2 separate regions of the Homo sapiens genome follow, and region 1 is linked to region 2. Evidence: fine-mapped expression QTL. A gene starts in region 2. The other region holds a variant in brackets. All regions are shown on one strand. Distances are from middle to middle.

What was found.
Region 1: its variant is fine-mapped to the expression of NUBP1 in whole blood (TOPMed, PIP 0.97).

The regions. Positions count from the first base shown.
Region 1 is chr16:10,764,038-10,772,364 of GRCh38, forward strand. NUBP1 (NUBP iron-sulfur cluster assembly factor 1, cytosolic) reads left to right here. Exons shown (of 11, transcript NM_002484.4): 10 at 3,912-3,995; 11 at 5,010-5,314. The coding sequence ends at 5,068. It overlaps TVP23A (trans-golgi network vesicle protein 23 homolog A), which reads right to left. Exons shown (of 8, transcript NM_001079512.4): 6 at 7,633-7,761; 7 at 6,235-6,294; 8 at 2,638-5,064. The coding sequence ends at 6,235. Among named protein-coding and RNA genes, the nearest start is that of NUBP1, 24 kb to the left of the region's middle. The variant A/G (reference allele first, on the strand shown) is at 5,070.
Region 2 is chr16:10,738,984-10,747,310 of GRCh38, forward strand. NUBP1 (NUBP iron-sulfur cluster assembly factor 1, cytosolic) reads left to right here and starts at 4,859. Exons shown (of 11, transcript NM_002484.4): 1 at 4,859-4,899; 2 at 4,978-5,082; 3 at 8,160-8,293. The coding sequence starts at 4,881. RefSeq lists an enhancer at 4,668-4,717.

The sequences.
Region 1 (8,327 bases), 25 kb after region 2:
GCATCCCAGCCCAAAGGAGCATCTCAGCCCACTGGAGCATCCCAGCCCAAGGGAGTATCTCAGCCCACAGGAGTATCTCAGCCCACGGGAGCATCCCAACTCAAAGGAGCATCTCAGCCCACAGGAGTATCTCAGCCCACGGGAGCATCCCAGCCCGAAGGAGCGTCTCAGCCCACTGGAGCATCTCAGCCCATGGGAGCATCTTAGCCTGCTGGAGCACCTCAGTGTACTTTGCTTTTTGGCATCTCAGTCTGCTGGAGTATTTGTCTATTGGAGCATCTCAGTCTGCTGGAGTGTGGCAGTCTATTGGAGCATCTCAGTCTGCTGGAGTATGCCAGTCTGTTGGAGCATCTCAGTCTGCTGGAGTATTTGTCTATTGGAGAATCTCAGTCTGCTGGAGTATGCCAGTGTGTTGGAGCATCTCAGTCTGCTGGAGTATGTCAGTCTATTGGAGCATCTCAGTCTGCTGGAGTATTTGTCTATTGGAGCATCTCATTCTGCTGGAGTATTTGTCTATTGGAGCATCTCAGTCTGCTGGAGTATGTCAGTCTATTGGAGCATCTCAGTCTGCTGGAGTATGTCAGTCTATTGGAGCATCTCAGTCTGCTGGAGTATGTCAGTCTATTGGAGCATCTCAGTCTGCTGGAGTAGGTCTATTGGAGCATCTCAGTCTGCTGGAGTATGTCAGTCTGTTGGAGCATCTCAGTCTGCTGGAGTATGTCAGTCTGTTGGAGCATCTCAGTCTGCTGGAGTATGTCAGTCTGTTGGAGCATCTCAGTCTGCTGGAGTATGTCAGTCTGTTGGAGCATCTGTCTGCTGGAGTATGTCAGTCTGTTGGAGCATCTCAGTCTGCTGGAGTATGTCAGTCTGTTGGAGCATCTGTCTGCTGGAGTGTCTTGGCTGCTGTCGAGGAAAGCTGGGCACAGCCACCAGGGCATTCCTGAGCCCACTTACCCATCAGAGGGGCTGCATCTCCCAGAAGCGTGCCTGCCCGAGTGCCATGCTCGTCTCAGTCACTAGCTAGGAGCAGCCTGGGAGTGGCATTGCCTCAACACAAACGTGGTGGTGGATTTTGGAGCATGGCAGCTGCTGCCAGAGATCCAAGAGGTGTGTCCTTATGGCCATCACAATTGCCACATTTTCCAAGGTTTAATGAAGAGCTAGAAATCTATATCCTTACCCAAAGTCTCCTGATACTAAATGATAGCAACTAACTCCATTAAATACACACACACACACACACACAACCATGCTCTAGCCTGGGTAACACAGGAAGATACCTCATCTCTTAAAAAAAAAAAAAAAAAAAAAAGGAAAAAATTCACCCAGTGTGGTGGCATGTGCCTGTGGTCCCAGCTACTCAGGAGGCTGAGTTAGCAGGATCACTTGAGCCCAGGGAGGTTGAGGTTGCAGTGAGCCATGATCACACCACTGCACTCCAGCCTGGGCGACAGAGCAAGAACCTGTCTCAAAAAAAAATTTAAAAATGGCATGCTTGCTGACCCACCCAAATATGTCCACGGGCCCAGCCACAGGCCTGCCCTTGCCATTGTCTGACAGATCAGGAAGTGACCTTGGGGCTATTAGATCCTGATACGGCTTTTCTTCCAAAGAGCCAGCAACCTCCATCTTCCCACCTCCCTCACACCAAGCCCTGGCATTGGCCCTGGTCTTTCCTTTCAGGGCCACTTTTCACAAAGAAACAAAGTTCCAGGTGGTTCACAAGAGCTAATTTCAAAGCAGAGGAGCCACCAGTGACAGCTGCGAGGCTCATTCTGAGCTGAGAACATTAAGTGCCTTCTAGTGGGCATGGTCCTGTGTGTCAAATGGCACATTGCAGAAGCTCACCTTGAGGGGAAGCCACAGATAGCAAGGCCAGGGAGTGCCAGAAAGGAAGGGGTGGTTAACACTGTCACCCACCCAAGAGGGTGGAGCATGAGGGCCAAGTGACAGACACGCATCTGGCAAGGTCACTGGGGACAGAGTGGGGGAAAACCCACCTTCCTAGGAACAGACAGGAAGGCATGAGGACAGCACTTCAGTCTCCTCTGGGGACATGGTGGCAAAGAGTTACAGATGCCAGCGCTCTGGTGCTATGGGTCCTGGTCCCGGTGTGCTGAGGATCACAGGAAGGGCTGGCCTCAGAGCCCTGCTCCGCCACCACTAGCTGTGGGACTTGGGCTAGTCATTTCCGCTCTCAGCCTCGATGGCCCCGTGTGTAAAATGCAGGTGACAGTGGTGCCTAGTGAGAGGGATCTGCCAGGGTGGGGTGAGAGGATGCCTGGGATCTCTTGGAACAGGGCTGTGCTCACACCAGCTGTTCTGATAATGCTGCCCGTTCTTGGAGAGGTGGGAGCCCAGGGGGAAATGCAGTTAGGAAGGGAAAACACTAGAGCATATATGTGTGTTGGGGGCTGGGGAGCCCTCTGGGGAAGGGAGACCTGGGTGAAAGTCAGGGACAGAAAGTAGCCCCAGCATGACTATTCTGGGATCCCCAACCTCCCAGGTCTGGCCCAGCGAACGTGCACTCAGGGGCCTCCCTAGCGAGTTCCACATGGTCTCATGGGCCCAGCGTTAACGGCGGAGGATGTCCAGGTTCTTGGTGTCTGGAACAAAAAATTGGACAAAACGCACAAAGAAAGGAAGGAAGGAAGGGATTTATTGAAAATGAAAGTCAACTCCACGGTGTGGGAGGAGAACGGGCCTGAGAATAGGGGCTCAAAGGCCCCATTACAGAGTTTTTGTGTTTAAATACCCTCTACTTGAGGTACGCCCTATATAAACGAAAAGGATGAAGTAAAGTTACAAAGTCATTTACGGCATACGTCCTATGGAGAGGACATTTCCTGTTATGGCTCAAGTGCGAATTGGCCTTATGTTCCCTGCCTCTGGACCCTATTTTCCTGACTCACTGGGCCATATGGGCTCCCCATCTCCCACCAACCCCTCCCCACAGGCTTCTTCCCCGACTTGGACTTCCCTGTCCCACAGGGCGACACAGTAGTGAAGTTGAGGAAATGATGAGTGCTAGGTAGGAACCCCTCCTGGGGTTCACCTGAGGCTGGTGACCGGCCATGGGCAGTGCAGTCACTTGCCTGTTTCGCCAGCAGCTCAGGCCTGGGGAGTGGGCAGAGCAAGCTGATGGCAGGTCCACCCACGACTGGGGGCTGGCAGGGCAGACTGGAGGCGAGAACACCCCCATTGACCCCTAGCCCCTTGTGTCCTGTCCACCTGGCTCTGGGATAACATGGTCCTAGAGAAACCTGGGTGTGCATAGGAGGGGACTGGAACAATGGCCACATGGCGGGGAAAGACTAGCAGACTGATAGACACCAGCACAGATGACCTGGAAGATAAAATTATACACAGACAAAGCAGCAGGCAGAATGTGTGTGTCATGTGCTCCCATTCGTATTTTAGGTATATGAGAGTGTGTGTATGTGTGTGCGCACACATGCAAGTGTGCACATTTATATGCGCATAATCTTTCTGGAAAGACACCTAGAACACTAGTAGCCCTTTTCGGACTTGGCCTTTTATGCCATATCCTTTTGCATTCTGTACTTTTTTTAACCATGTGCATTCATGATCCTTTCACTCAAAAGCTAATCTCTTAAAATGCAGACTCCTGGGCCCATGTGGAAGCTGCTGAATCAGTTCTCTGTAGGGCCCTGGAACCTGCATTTTCTGTACACCACCTGATTATTTAGCCACGCTGAAATGCTGGCTGGGGACCCTGCTGGAAGGAAGGTCCCTGAGACCCCACTGGTCTTTTCTACTTTGTTCTTCATTACGAGTGAAGCGGGCTCAAGATCTTCCCATTGTCACCAGCACGGAAAGAGCCCCAAGATCTTGTGGCCATTCTGTTTTCCTCTTGGACTGAATTGTCTTCCGTTTGTTTCTTTTTTAAGGTAAGAATTGTGACAAAGGCCAGTCTTTTTTCATTGACGCCCCAGATTCCCCAGCCACGTTAGCCTACAGAAGTATAATTCAGAGTAAGTATTTCCATGAGTACTAAATGCAGATGCCTGTGGGGCAGGAAGCAACATAAAGGAGCCAGGGGTGTGGAAGGACAGGTGGGTGGTGGGGTCTGTGATGACCACAGAGTGGCCCCCATAGCCGAGGAAGCCAGGAGTCCATGAGAAATCTCTCAATGTGTGAGTATTGTGAATTAATTCATAGTTTAAAAAACATGGTGAGGGTGAAATTTATGGCTTAGGAAATACATCCCAATAAAGGGATAAAGTAATTCATTTTTAAAAGTAACTGATAAAAAAAAAAAAGGCCAGGTGCAGTGGCTCACACCTGGAATCCCAGCACTTTGGGTGAAGGAGGCAGGCAGATCACTTGAGGCTGGTCAGGAGTTCAAGACCAGCCTGGCTAACATGGAGAAACACTGTCTCTACTAAAAATATGAAAATTAGCCGGGTGTGGTGGCGCATGCCTGTAGTCCCAGCTACTCAGGAGGCTGAGGCAGGAGAATCGCTTGAACCTGGGAGGCGGAGGCTGCAGTAAGGCGAGATCGCGCCACTGCACTCCAGCCTGGGCAACAGCGTGAGACCGTGTCTCAAAAAAATAAAAAATAAAAATAAAAACTTTGTTGAGCCAGACCAAACCCACGTGCAGGCCACATTCAGCCAGTGGCAGCCATCAGAGGCCCCAGAGTTAGGGCAGAGGTGTCAGTGTTTGTTAAAGCTGTGGTCTCTGAGTTTGTGGCTGGGTTTTACTTGCCTAGAAGAATGATGTCAAGGGTAAGGAAACAGCATTCCCAGAATCCTCCATCTATAGATGGTCCGAGGAAGGCCGCAGCCACTGGTTATGAGCAAGATGGGTAGTGTGAGGTATTCCGGTCACTTTCAAAGACTCAGGGCATCACAGACACAGGTCTTTTTATGGAACTAGCCAGAGGATTCCACCCCTGTCAAAACACAGCCCTCCCCAGCACAGGACAGGGCTGTCAAGGGGTAGACAAGCCATTAGCACTCTATGCCTGTCGTCTTGTTTTCCAGGAATCCAAGAGTTTTGTAATCTCCATCAGTCAAAAGAAGAGAACCTCATCAGTTCCTGAA[A/G]CGAGAGAATGTTCAGGACCAAGCAGTTACCGAGCGAGGCACTCACTGGGCAGCACATCCAGCCAGACCCGACCAGCTCCGGGATGGGGTGGGTCACAGCAAAAGGACCAGATGCTGGTGTGGTCCGAAGCCACTTTCTCAGAGACACTTTAATCATTGAGTATTTGTACACTTTTCTTTAGAACATATATAAAGGGCATTCTCTACAAATGTGCCGTTTTAAGAATAAAACCCCCTCAAATCTCTCCCCCGAGGCCTGTTTCACGTAAAAAACAAATGGGTTGTGGGATCGTGGGATTCTGCTGTGTCGGAAGCTTAGTCGATTGTAGAAACTCCCGTTTAAGCCATTTCTGCCTGTGAAGATAAGAAAGCCTAGAAAAGAACCAAAGGGGTGAGTGTGCGGCTTCACTGCAGAACACACAGGCTTGTTTTCAAACACCACAGTCCAAACGCTTTTCTTCAGATTGAGGAAAAATCTAAAAGCAACAGAGCTCAGGCTGGGCTTCGTTCTAAAATCACTGCATATGACACAGCTGGGTCAAATCAAAAAGCCCTTGAAGAGTCCTTGAATCACCCAGTAAGACAGAATGTGGGGTCTGTGTAAATTCCCTGTGTAGTAATATGTGCACAGTATATCCAGTAATGTCCAGTGTCATGCAAACCAACTTTCAGGTTTTTTAATTATATAAAAAAGAGGGACAGATGTAAACTCTACGATCATCCTCTTTGCCATGAGGTGCTTGCTCTGTTTGAGACACACAGGATCTGAGACCACGTGGGAGAAGAGTAAATTCCTGTTTTCCCTCCACTCTGGGGCATAAAAGTGGGTGGGTGGGAAACAAGAACAAATCCCCTTGTTCTTTCCCTCCCTTGTCTCTTCCCTCCCCGCCCTTCCCTAGGACCATACATATGATCAGATTTGCACATGTTCAGTGTGAGGAAGGTGTGACCTCGCCCCCCGACCCCCAGCTCCTCACGCCAAGAGCAATGAGGCTGCAAAGCCCAGGGCAGGCCCATTGCCCAGTCTGCTTCCTGCCTGGTCACATGCCTGGCCACCCCAGGGAACAGGGGAAGCCCACCCAGACCCCGGGCCCCTGTGCCCCAAGAGCTGCATTTTTCAGAATTCCCCAGTTCCTCCACACGGGTGCCATGATCCATTTCTCACCTAATGCTGGTGAATCTCCAGCCCCTCGAGGCCAGGCTTCTGAAAGTCACCTGGGCAGGCCTGCAAGGGGAAAAGTCAACCATGGTTTTCTGTCCTTACACGCGAGTGGGGCGATCCTGCTGATGGAAGGCCAGAGAAAACCCACAAAGTACAGAAAACCTGCGGAATTGGTTGCTTGATGTCTTGGCATAAAGCAGTGCTGTTCAAATTTAGGACGGTTCTACCCATTTCAGGATGAACCTGGTCAAATTTCAAAGACTTCTGTCTCTCACTTTTAGAAATATCTATTAAGTTAAAAAAAAAAAACAAAACAAAAACAAGCTGGGCACGGTAGCTCCCGCCTGTAATCCTAGCACTTTGGGAGGCCAAGGCTGGTAGATCACTTGAGGCAAGGAGTTCGAGACCAGCCTGGTCAACATGGAGAGACCCCGTCTACTATAAATACAAAAATTAGCCAGGCATGGTGTTATGCACCTGTAATCCCAGCTACTTGGGAGGCTGAGGCAGGAGAATCACTTGAACCCGGAGCCGGAGGTTGCAGTGAGCCAACACATGCCATTGCACTCCAGCCTGGGAGCAGAGTGAGACTCCCATCTCAAAAAAAAAAAAAAAAAAAAAAAAAAAATTGAAAAACCGTTTGTGACTCTTTCCTTAATTCTATACTTTTAAAAATCACTGAAAACTAACAATGGCAGTCACAAAAGGACAAAAACTATAATTGCACTTATAGGAGGTCCCTAGGGCTGTCAAACCAATAGATACAGAAAGCAGAATGCTGGTTGCTAGGGCTAGGAGGCGAGGAGGAGGGGGAGTTAGTGTTTTGTGGGTACTGAGCTTAAGTTTTGCAAGATGAAAGCAGTTCTGGAGCTGGGTGGGGTGAAGGTTGCACAATAAAGTGGTTATACTTAATGCCACAGAACTATACATTTTAAAATGGTTACAATGGTACATTTTATGTAAATCTTACAATTAAAAAACAAAACTGCCAGGCACAGTGGCTCACTCATGGCTGTAATCCCAGCACTTTGGGAGGCCAAGGCAGGCGGGCTGCTTGAGCTCAGGAGTTCTAGAGCAGCCTGGGCAACATGGCAAAACTTCGTCTCTACAAAAAAAAAAGGCCAGGCATGGTGGTACACACCTGTAGTCCCAACTGTGCCAGAGGCTGAGGTGGGAGGATCGCTTGAGCCCAAGAGATGGAGGTTGCAATAGGCCGCGATCACACCATTGCACTCTAGCCTGGGTGACAGAGCGAGATCCTGTCTCCCAAAAAATATATAAACAATAAAACATTGGCAGCCTGGCGGATATGTTACATTACAAACCGCAGTTGCCAGCAGGCCACCTTGACTTTGACTACCTGGAGAGGAGTGGTCCAAGAGTCAGACCTCAGTTACTCACCGTCTGGAACACTGTCTGGGACAGGAAACTGGCTGTGACCTTGCCAATGTCACTGTTGCCTCCCATCTTACAAAGGATGTAGCCATACAGGTTTGCAGCTTGGAGAGAGATCCCAGCAACCACCAGAGCCTGCACTCAGACAAAGAAAGCAAAGGTCACTTTTTTTTGAGACAGAGTTTCGCTCTGTCGCCCAGGCTGGGGTGCAGAGGCACGATCTCAGCTCACTGCAAGTTCCGCCTCCCGGGTTCACACCATTCTCCTGCCTCAGCCTCCCGAGTAGCTGGGACTACAGGCGTCCGCCACCAGGCCTGGCTAATTTTTTTGTATTTTTAGTAGAGACACTGTTTCACCATGTTAGCCAGGATGGTCTCCATCTGACGCAAAGGTCACTTTCTAAGAGCATTTACAGAAATGCACCTCTCAAGCCACGTAGAAATGCTCTAGCCTGCACCTAAGAATAGTAACAGCCAACATTTACTGAGCATTTGCAAATACCCACGGACACCTCAGAATCATTACAACTGGAGAGGTTGCCACCATCATCATCCCATTTTACAAAGAGGAAACTGAGGCTCAGGAAGACGAAAGCTGCCCAAGGTCACAGAGCTGGAGCGTGGTCGAGCCGGGATCCAAATTCCAGGGCCCGCACTTTCATTAAATGACACTGTTGTTTTACTATCTACAAATATTTTGTT
Region 2 (8,327 bases):
CCCAAAGTGCTGGGTTACAGGCATGAGTCATCACGCCCAACCTTTTTTTTTTTTTTCTGAGACAGAGTCTCATTCTGTCACTCAGGCTGGAGTGCAGTGGCACAATCTTGGCTCACTGCAACCTCTGCCTCCCGGGTTCATGCAATTCTCCTGCCTCAGCCTCCTGAGTAGCTGGGATTATAGGCGCACACCACCACACCCAGCTAATTTTTTGTGTATTTTTAGTAGAGACAGGGTTTCGCTATGTTGGCCAGACTGGTCTTGAACACCTGACCTGGTGATCCACCCGCCTCGGCCTCCCAAAGTGCTGGGATTACAGGCGTGAGCCATCGCGCCTGGCCTTTTTTTTTTTTTTTTTTTTTTTTTTAGACAAGGTGTCACTCTGCTGCCCAGGCTGGAGGGCAGTACTGTGATAACAGCTCATTGCAGCCTCCAACTCCAGCAATCGTCCTGCCTCGGCCTCCCAAGTAGCTGGGACTACAGGCATGCACCACCTTGCCCAGTTAATTTTTAAATTTTTTGTAGAGACAGGGTCTCACTATGCTGTTCTCCAACTCCTGGCCTCAAGCAATCCTCCTGCCTTGGCCTCCTAAAATGCTGGGATTACAGGTGTGAGCCACTGCACCTGACGTGTGTGACTAATTGTAGCCAATGAAAAGTGGGCAGATAGGTGTCATTTCTAGTGGAAGCATTTCAGAATCAGGGTACAATTCCCCTGGCTTGTGTCCTCTGTGTTCAAAAGGGGCCACAGGAGACGGTGGAGCTTCAGTCTGTGTCCCTGAGGAACCACAGGGAGCAGGAACCTCTGTCCATGAAGTTACATATGGAGCAAATGCCAAAATAAACTTGATTGCCTTGAGCCACTTCAGTTTGGGGATGTCTGTTTTGGCAGCGCAGACTAGCCTATCCTGGCTGAAACAGACACTGTTGCAGGACCAGGAGGAGGAGGGGGCCTGAGCTGAGGCAGGAGGGATGCTGGAAGGCATGGAGTGTCAGTTGTCTATAGCTACCCCAAACTCAACAGTGTCAAACCACCAGCATTTAGCTAGTTCACCAGCCTGTGCATTGGCCAGGTGGTTCTTCAGGACTCACGCATCTATGGCCAGTTGTGGGTCTGGATGGGTGGATCTGTGGGTCTGGATGTGTGGATCGGTGGGTCTGGATGGGTGGATCTGTGTGTCTGGATGTGTGGATCGGTGGGTCTGGATGGGTGGATCTGTGGGTCTGGATGGGTGGATCAGTGGGTCTGGATGGGTGGATCTGTGGGTCTGGGTGGGTGGATCTGTGGGTCTGGATGGGTGGATCTGTGGGTCTGGGTGGGTGGATCTGCAGCTCTTGGCTGGACTCTTCTCATGTGTCTTGGGCCGCTGGTTTAGGAGGCCTTCACTGAGAGCACAGGGGTGGCTCAGCTCAGTTCCAGGTGTTTCACCTCCCATGGGCGAGCCCAGACCTTCTCCTAGCCTGTGTACCTTTAAGTGGCAGGGGAGCTGGAGAGGGATTAAAACAGGCAAAAGCCCCATTACAAGCTTTTTCTTGAATCACATTTGCTAAAGTAAGTCACATGCCTGAGCACAGAGTCAAGGGGTAGGATGGAACCCCCTCCCCGCACGTGGGAGGGCACTGCAAAGTTCAGCAGCCAAGGGCACAGATCCAGACAGGGAGAGAAGTGGGGTCATGTGTGCTACCAGCCTACCACCTAGGGGTGCAGCTGCTGACCTGATGTCTGATTGGATGCAGGGGGTGCTGTGGGCGTCTCTATGGACAACACTGACCCCCATCCCTGTATAGGTACGCCACCCCACTAATCAACAAGAGGAGTCTGTGTCTGTGACACTTTGACCGAGAGAACATGGTGAAAGTGACTGCCACTTCCCAGCTTTGTCATTCCCAGCTGCCATTTAAAGGGACACAGGCTAGACCACTGAAAAATGAGAGAGGGAGGCCACGAGGGGGGAATCAAGGCCAGTGTGAGAGTGAAGCCATTTGAGACCTTCCAGCCAACTCCCAGCTGAATGAAGCCACATTAAGGGAGCCCAGGTGAAACCAGAAGAGTCACAGGAAGCAATAAACCATGGTGGGTTTAAACCACTACATATTGGGGTGACTTGTCACACAGCACTTGATCACTGATGGAGATGGAGAAAACTAAACAAGGCTGATACTCAGATTTACGGCTTGAGTTCTTAGCCCAGGGGTCATGCCCTGTCCAGGTATAACAAATCCAGAGGCAGGAACCGCCTTGAGAAGAAGTTGTAGACGTTTATTTGTTACGCTTGTGGGATGTCCATGCAATAAAATCCAATAGGCACAAGGTAGGATCCACAGATCCGAACTCACGGAGCAAGAGGTGTGGGAGCTGGAGACAGAAGATGGATAGCATCAGGGCTGTCAGTTGCTTGCCCAGGAGGAAGTGGGAAGTGGGACTGGAAGTGGCCCAAGAACAGAGTCTTGGGGAGCACTCACCTTAAGAAGCGGCCCTGGCCAGGCGCGGTGGCTCACACCTGTAATCCTAGCACTTTGGTAGGCTGAGGCGGGTGGATCACCTGAGGTCAGGAGTTCGAGACCAGCCAGGCCTACATGGTAAAACCCCGTCTCTACCAAAAATACAAAAAATTAGCCAGGCGTGGTGGTGGGCACCTGTAGTCCCAGCTACTCAGGAGGCTGACACAGGAGAATTGCTTGAACCCGGGAGGTGGAGGTTGCAGTAAGCCAAGATCACACCACTGCACTCCAGCATGAGCAACAGAGTGAGATTCCATCCCACAAAAATAAAAATAAAAAGGAGAATAACTTGCATCCTGCCCTCTAATATACAGTATAGTGATTAATAGCAAAGGCCCTGTATCAGACTTGGTTAAAAACCCAGTTCTGCTCTTTCTGCCTCTCAGACTGTGGACAAGTAAATCTTTGCAGCCATCTTATCACCTGTAAAACGGAAATGACAACAGTCCCTACCTGATAGGTGACTTCCTCTCTGCTCTCCAGGCCTTTGCTGATGCCCCATCACTCTGGTCCTCTTCTCCCGACCAGACTGTGCTCCAGATGGCAGGGTCCAGGTTAGTCTGGAATCATTGGCATCTAGCCCAGTGCTGGCTGGGACCATGTGTTACTAAGTGCAGGCTCTGCAGCCAGACAGACCAAGTTTATCACCCTGGTTCCCCTGCTACCAGTCATGCGACCTCGGGAAAGTAGTTTACTTTAAGCCTCAGTTTCCTTATCCAAAAATGGAGACAGTAGGACTATGAAAGGACATAAATTAGGTAATTCACATGAAAGCACAAAGATGACAGCTGCCAAACGGTAAGTATTCTACAAAATGCTGGCTATAATTAGTGGTAGTGACAGGCAGCTGATACACTGCTGTTTAATAAATGTTTCCGAGGCCGGGTGCGGTGGCTCATGCCTGTAATCCCAACACTTTGGGAGGCCAAGGCGGGCAGATCACGAGGTCAGGAGATCGAGACCATTCTGGCTAACATGGTGAAACCCTGTCTCTACTAAAAATACAAAAAATTAGCCGGGCGTGGTGGCCTGTAGTCTCAGCTACTCGGGTGGCTGAGGCAGGAGAATGACGTGAACCCAGAAGGCGGAGCTTGCAGTGAGCCGAGATCCCACCACTGCACTCCAGCCTGGGTGACAGAGCGAGAATCCGCCTCAAAAATAAATAAATAAATAAACGTTTCCATATTCTTAGTGTCTGGGGCTAGGTAAAGTTTGTTCACTCATTAATATTCCAGGTGCCAAACCTGTGAGCAATGACACTCCAGTAGCAATGAGCATTTGTGGCATCCACATCTTGGTTTCTGAACTGTTGTCTGCTAAAAAGTAACCAAGGCTCCCTGAAGAAATGACTGCAGCAGGGAGAAGGGATGACTGAAACATCTTGTATCAGAAAGCAAGAAAATGCTCAAAGAAGCTGGATTAGTGCCCAAAGAACATAAGAACTGTCTTGAAGGGGCTTCACTGGCCACATCTGGGGGAAAAAAAATCGACCAGAAAGAATAATAATTGATTATAAAAGACAATTTTAAAAAATCCAGGAATCCATAGTGAGTCTTCGAAAAAAAAGAAAAAAAGAGAGGGTATAAAACTGATATATATTTATCATATATATAATCTATAGTTTTATATATATATATATAAATGCTGCTAAAATCACTGAGTGAAAGGCTGATAGAGAAGAAGATGGTCCCAGAGAGTACCTGTTAATTACAAATGGAAGAAGGAAACATTAAATGGAGAAATGGGGCAGACACCACCTTTAGCAAGCGATCAAGCTTCACATTACCAAAAACGGGACAAACTGACATTATCCAAGTGTGTTCTGCAGGAAAAAAGAAAAATTAACCTTTATCTAATTACAAGGCAAGAGGGAGGGGAGGATTAGACAAATCAAGAATATGGGATATTCTATTACACAACTGGTCTGGACCCGTCAAAATTATCAAGGTGATGAGACCCCCCCTAAAAAAAGAAGGACTGATCTGAATTAAAGGAGACCGAAGAGAAATAACTCCAGGCAGTGAGTGAATCCAGCAGGGGAGGGGGTCTAACAACTGAAATTGAAATATAAACTGTCTATTGGCTAATACTGCATTGGCTAGTACTGCATCGATATTAAATCTCTTGGGTATGAAAATGGCACTGATGTCATGAAGAATGGCTTTGTTCTTAGGAGATGCACTGCAGAAGTATTTATGATAGGAAATCTCTGAAAAGGAACAGACGTTGAGTCCCAGTCTTTCGGCCCAAGGTTCGCGCGTGCGCACAGCCCCCTTTCCGAGACTTATTTCGCGCGGTCGGAGAATCAGATTGTGCCCACAAGGCGGAAATGTACGACAGCGGGTTCCGGTGACCACGAAGGCGGCAAAGGCGACGGAATGGAGGAGGTGCCTCACGGTAAGCTCGCGGAGGGGGCGTGGGTCGCGGGGCGAAAGTGTCGGGAGCTGCTCTAACTGTGGTCTTGTCTCTGCGCAGACTGTCCAGGGGCCGACAGCGCCCAGGCGGGCAGAGGGGCTTCATGTCAGGGATGCCCCAACCAGCGGCTGTGCGCTTCTGGAGCGGGGGCCACTCCGGACACGGGTGAGAAAAGGGCAAGGCCTCAACAGGAACTTAGAGGCGCAGGCCCGGAAAAGGCGGGGCGTGGGAGGGAGGGGGCGGGATCTGCAGAATGACTGACAGCGGCAGGCTAGAAGGTATTGTATTCGGAGAGGGGTGGGGCCCAGAAGGGGCGGGGCGTGGAAAGTGGGCAGGGTGAGGGCGGAGCTTGGAATGACTGACAGGAACGAGGCCTTTAGAAGGCGAGCGCGAAGGACCTGGCGCGGATGGAGGGTGGAGACTGACCGGCGCGGAGTCGAAAGGGACATTAATTAAGAGGGTCGGGGCCAGAGGTTTGAGTGACAATAACAGACCGCAGAGAAAAACGGGATAAGCTTCGAAGTCGGGGAGTCTTCGGACTTACATCCTGGCTCTGCCAGCTACTTTCTTGACACAATTTTCTTCCTTTTGAGGAGTGATTCTCCCACTCATTCAGCAGAAATGTGTTGATCGCCTCGTAGGTTTGGTGCTGTCCTGGGGACACAGCTGGGGATCAGGCGTGGTCACTGCTCTAGTGGAGTTTAGCTTTACTGGGGAAACAAACACGTGAGCTAGCAACTAAACCACCGCAGCTTTAAGTGCTGTGAAGCACAGATTCCAGGATGAGAGGACCCAGGGAGCCTGCTCAGAAGGACCTTAAAAAGCAGGAGGCAGGAGGACAATATTTTTTTTTCTTTTTTTTCCCCCTTTTTTTTTAGACAGAGTCTTGCTGTGTAGCCCAGACCAGAGTGCAGTGGTGTGATCTCGGCTCACTGCAACTTTCACCTCTCAGGTTCAAGCGATTCTCGTGCCTCAGTCTCCCGAGTACCTGGGACTACAGGCGCCTGCCACCACGGCTGGCTAATTTTTATATTTTTAGTAGAACCAGAGTTTCACCATGTTGACCAGGTTGGTCTCGAACTCCTGACCTCAAGTGATGCATCTGCCTGGGCCTCCCAAAGTGCTGGGATTACAGGCATGAGCCACTGCACCTGGCCAAGGGGGAGAATCTTGAAGGAGTTCAGAGAGAGACTTGGATTTGATTCTTGGATCCATGCGGTGTGACCTTCAGCAATAGTCCTAACCTCTCTGAGCTTCTGGTTCCTCATCAAAAATGGAGACAGGCCGGGTGCAGTGGCTCACGCCTGTAATCCCAGCACTTTGGGAGGCCGAGGCGGGTGGATGGATCACTTGAGGTCAGGAGTTCGAGACCAGCCTGGCCAACATGGTGAAACCTGTCTCTACTAAAAATACAAAAATTAGCCAGCATGGTGGTGCATGCCCGCCCTCGAGGCTGAGGTGGGAGGATCACTTGAACCCGGGAGGTGGAGGTTGCAGTGAGCTGAGATCGTGCCACTGCACTCCAGCCTGGGTGACAGAGTGAGACCCTGTCTCAAAGAAAAAAAAAAATGAAGAGAAAAATAGTTATCTCTGTCAATGCAATGGAGAGACTGAACTGAGCCTCAGTGGAGGTTTATTGGGCCAGAGCTTGAGGGCGTGCCCTGGAAAATACAAGTGACAGAAACATCTGTGGCCTGTGCTCGATGGAGTGGTTCCAGAAGGCTGGTGTTTATATATTTCATTAAAAGGGGAAAAAGCATGCAGGAAAAAGTGCAGTAGGCCTCGTGGCAGGTAGTTACATTCTTGTGAGGTTTTAATTCGTGCCCAGTATATCTACACTATTCAGAAAATAAAGTAAACATTCAAAAGAGGGAATAAAGGAAGAATTAATTAGGCAGACGTCTCAGGGTAGGAGAGGAAGGACTATCTCATCCCATCTTTGTTTGGCATGTGGGAGGATAAGCTTGTAATGGACATGGTCAGTGTGGCGTTTAACAGACATCAGTAATAGGGAAGGAGTTAGACTGAGGTTACAGTCCTAAAGTTACAGTTGGCATGTCCTTGTTTATGGGAGGATACTCATCTTCAAAGATTTAGGGGCCAGCAAAGGAGTTCCTTAGGAGCAACTTGTGAGGGCAGTCATCCCACAATGGATTGCATGGGGCCTTTGGCCTTTTGCAGGTGTCTGGTTAATGTAGAATGCTTTGACACAAGGTTGGGAAGTAACAGCTGTCTGTTGATGGGGAGGAGGACAGCAGTGTTGGGAGGTTTCCAGGCTTAACTTTCACTTGAGTTTGGCCAGTCATGAGACTTTTTAATTTCCTTTATACCTCGTGTATTGTTTTAAGGATTTGAAATAAGATAGTTTCATTGGCAGATACTTAGTATGTGCCTGCTGTCTATCAGAGTTTCTCAACCTCAGCACTGCTGACATTTGGGGCAGGATCACTCTTTGTTGTGGGGGGCTGTCCTGTGCATTGTAGGACATTTAGCACAATCTGGGCTGTACCCATTAAATGCCAGCAGTACCTCTCCTGTGACAATGAAAAGTGTCTCCAGGCTGAGCATGGTGGCTCACACCTGTAATTCCAACACTTTGGGAGGCCAAGGTGGGTGGATCACTTGAGGTTGGAAGTTCGAGACTAGCCTGGCCAACATAGAGAAACACCGTCTCTATTAAAAATACAAAAATTAGCCAGGCATGGTGGCAGGCACCTGTAATCCCAGCTACTTGGGAGGCTAAGGCAGGAGAATCGCTTGAACCCAGGAGGCAGTGTTGCAGTGAGCCGAGATCACGCCACTGCACTCCATCCTGGGCGACAGAGCAACACTCTGTCTCAAAAAAAAAAGAAAGAAAGAACAGTGTCTCCAGACATTACCAAATGTCTCTGGGGGATTTTGTCCCCAAGTTGGTGACCATTGCTGTTTGCAAAGTTCTCTTCTGGAGCTGGGAATACAGCACTGAAAGCTTCAGACAGTTCCTACCTTTGTGGAGACTATGTTCTAGTTGGGGGAGACAAACGTGTAAACCAATAAATGAGACCCCTTCAAGTGTGATAATAGCCTTATTTTCTTCCTAGCACTTATTTCTACCATTGTCTGAGAGGTATTTCAGAGGATCGTTTTAAACAGCCCCAGGACTAGTACTAGGACTAGGACTTAGCTCTTTCTAGTTGACTGGAAGCGTGACATTCGAGGTTTGGTGTGGGACCTCATCCCCTGAACTTTGGTTTTCTTTGCAGCTATAGAGGAAATCAAAGAGAAAATGAAGACTGTAAAACACAAAATCTTGGTATTGTCTGGGAAAGGCGGTGTTGGGAAAAGCACATTCAGCGCCCACCTTGCCCATGGCCTAGCAGAGGATGAAAACACACAGGTGAGACCTCAGGAACCACTGGGAGATGCTCATT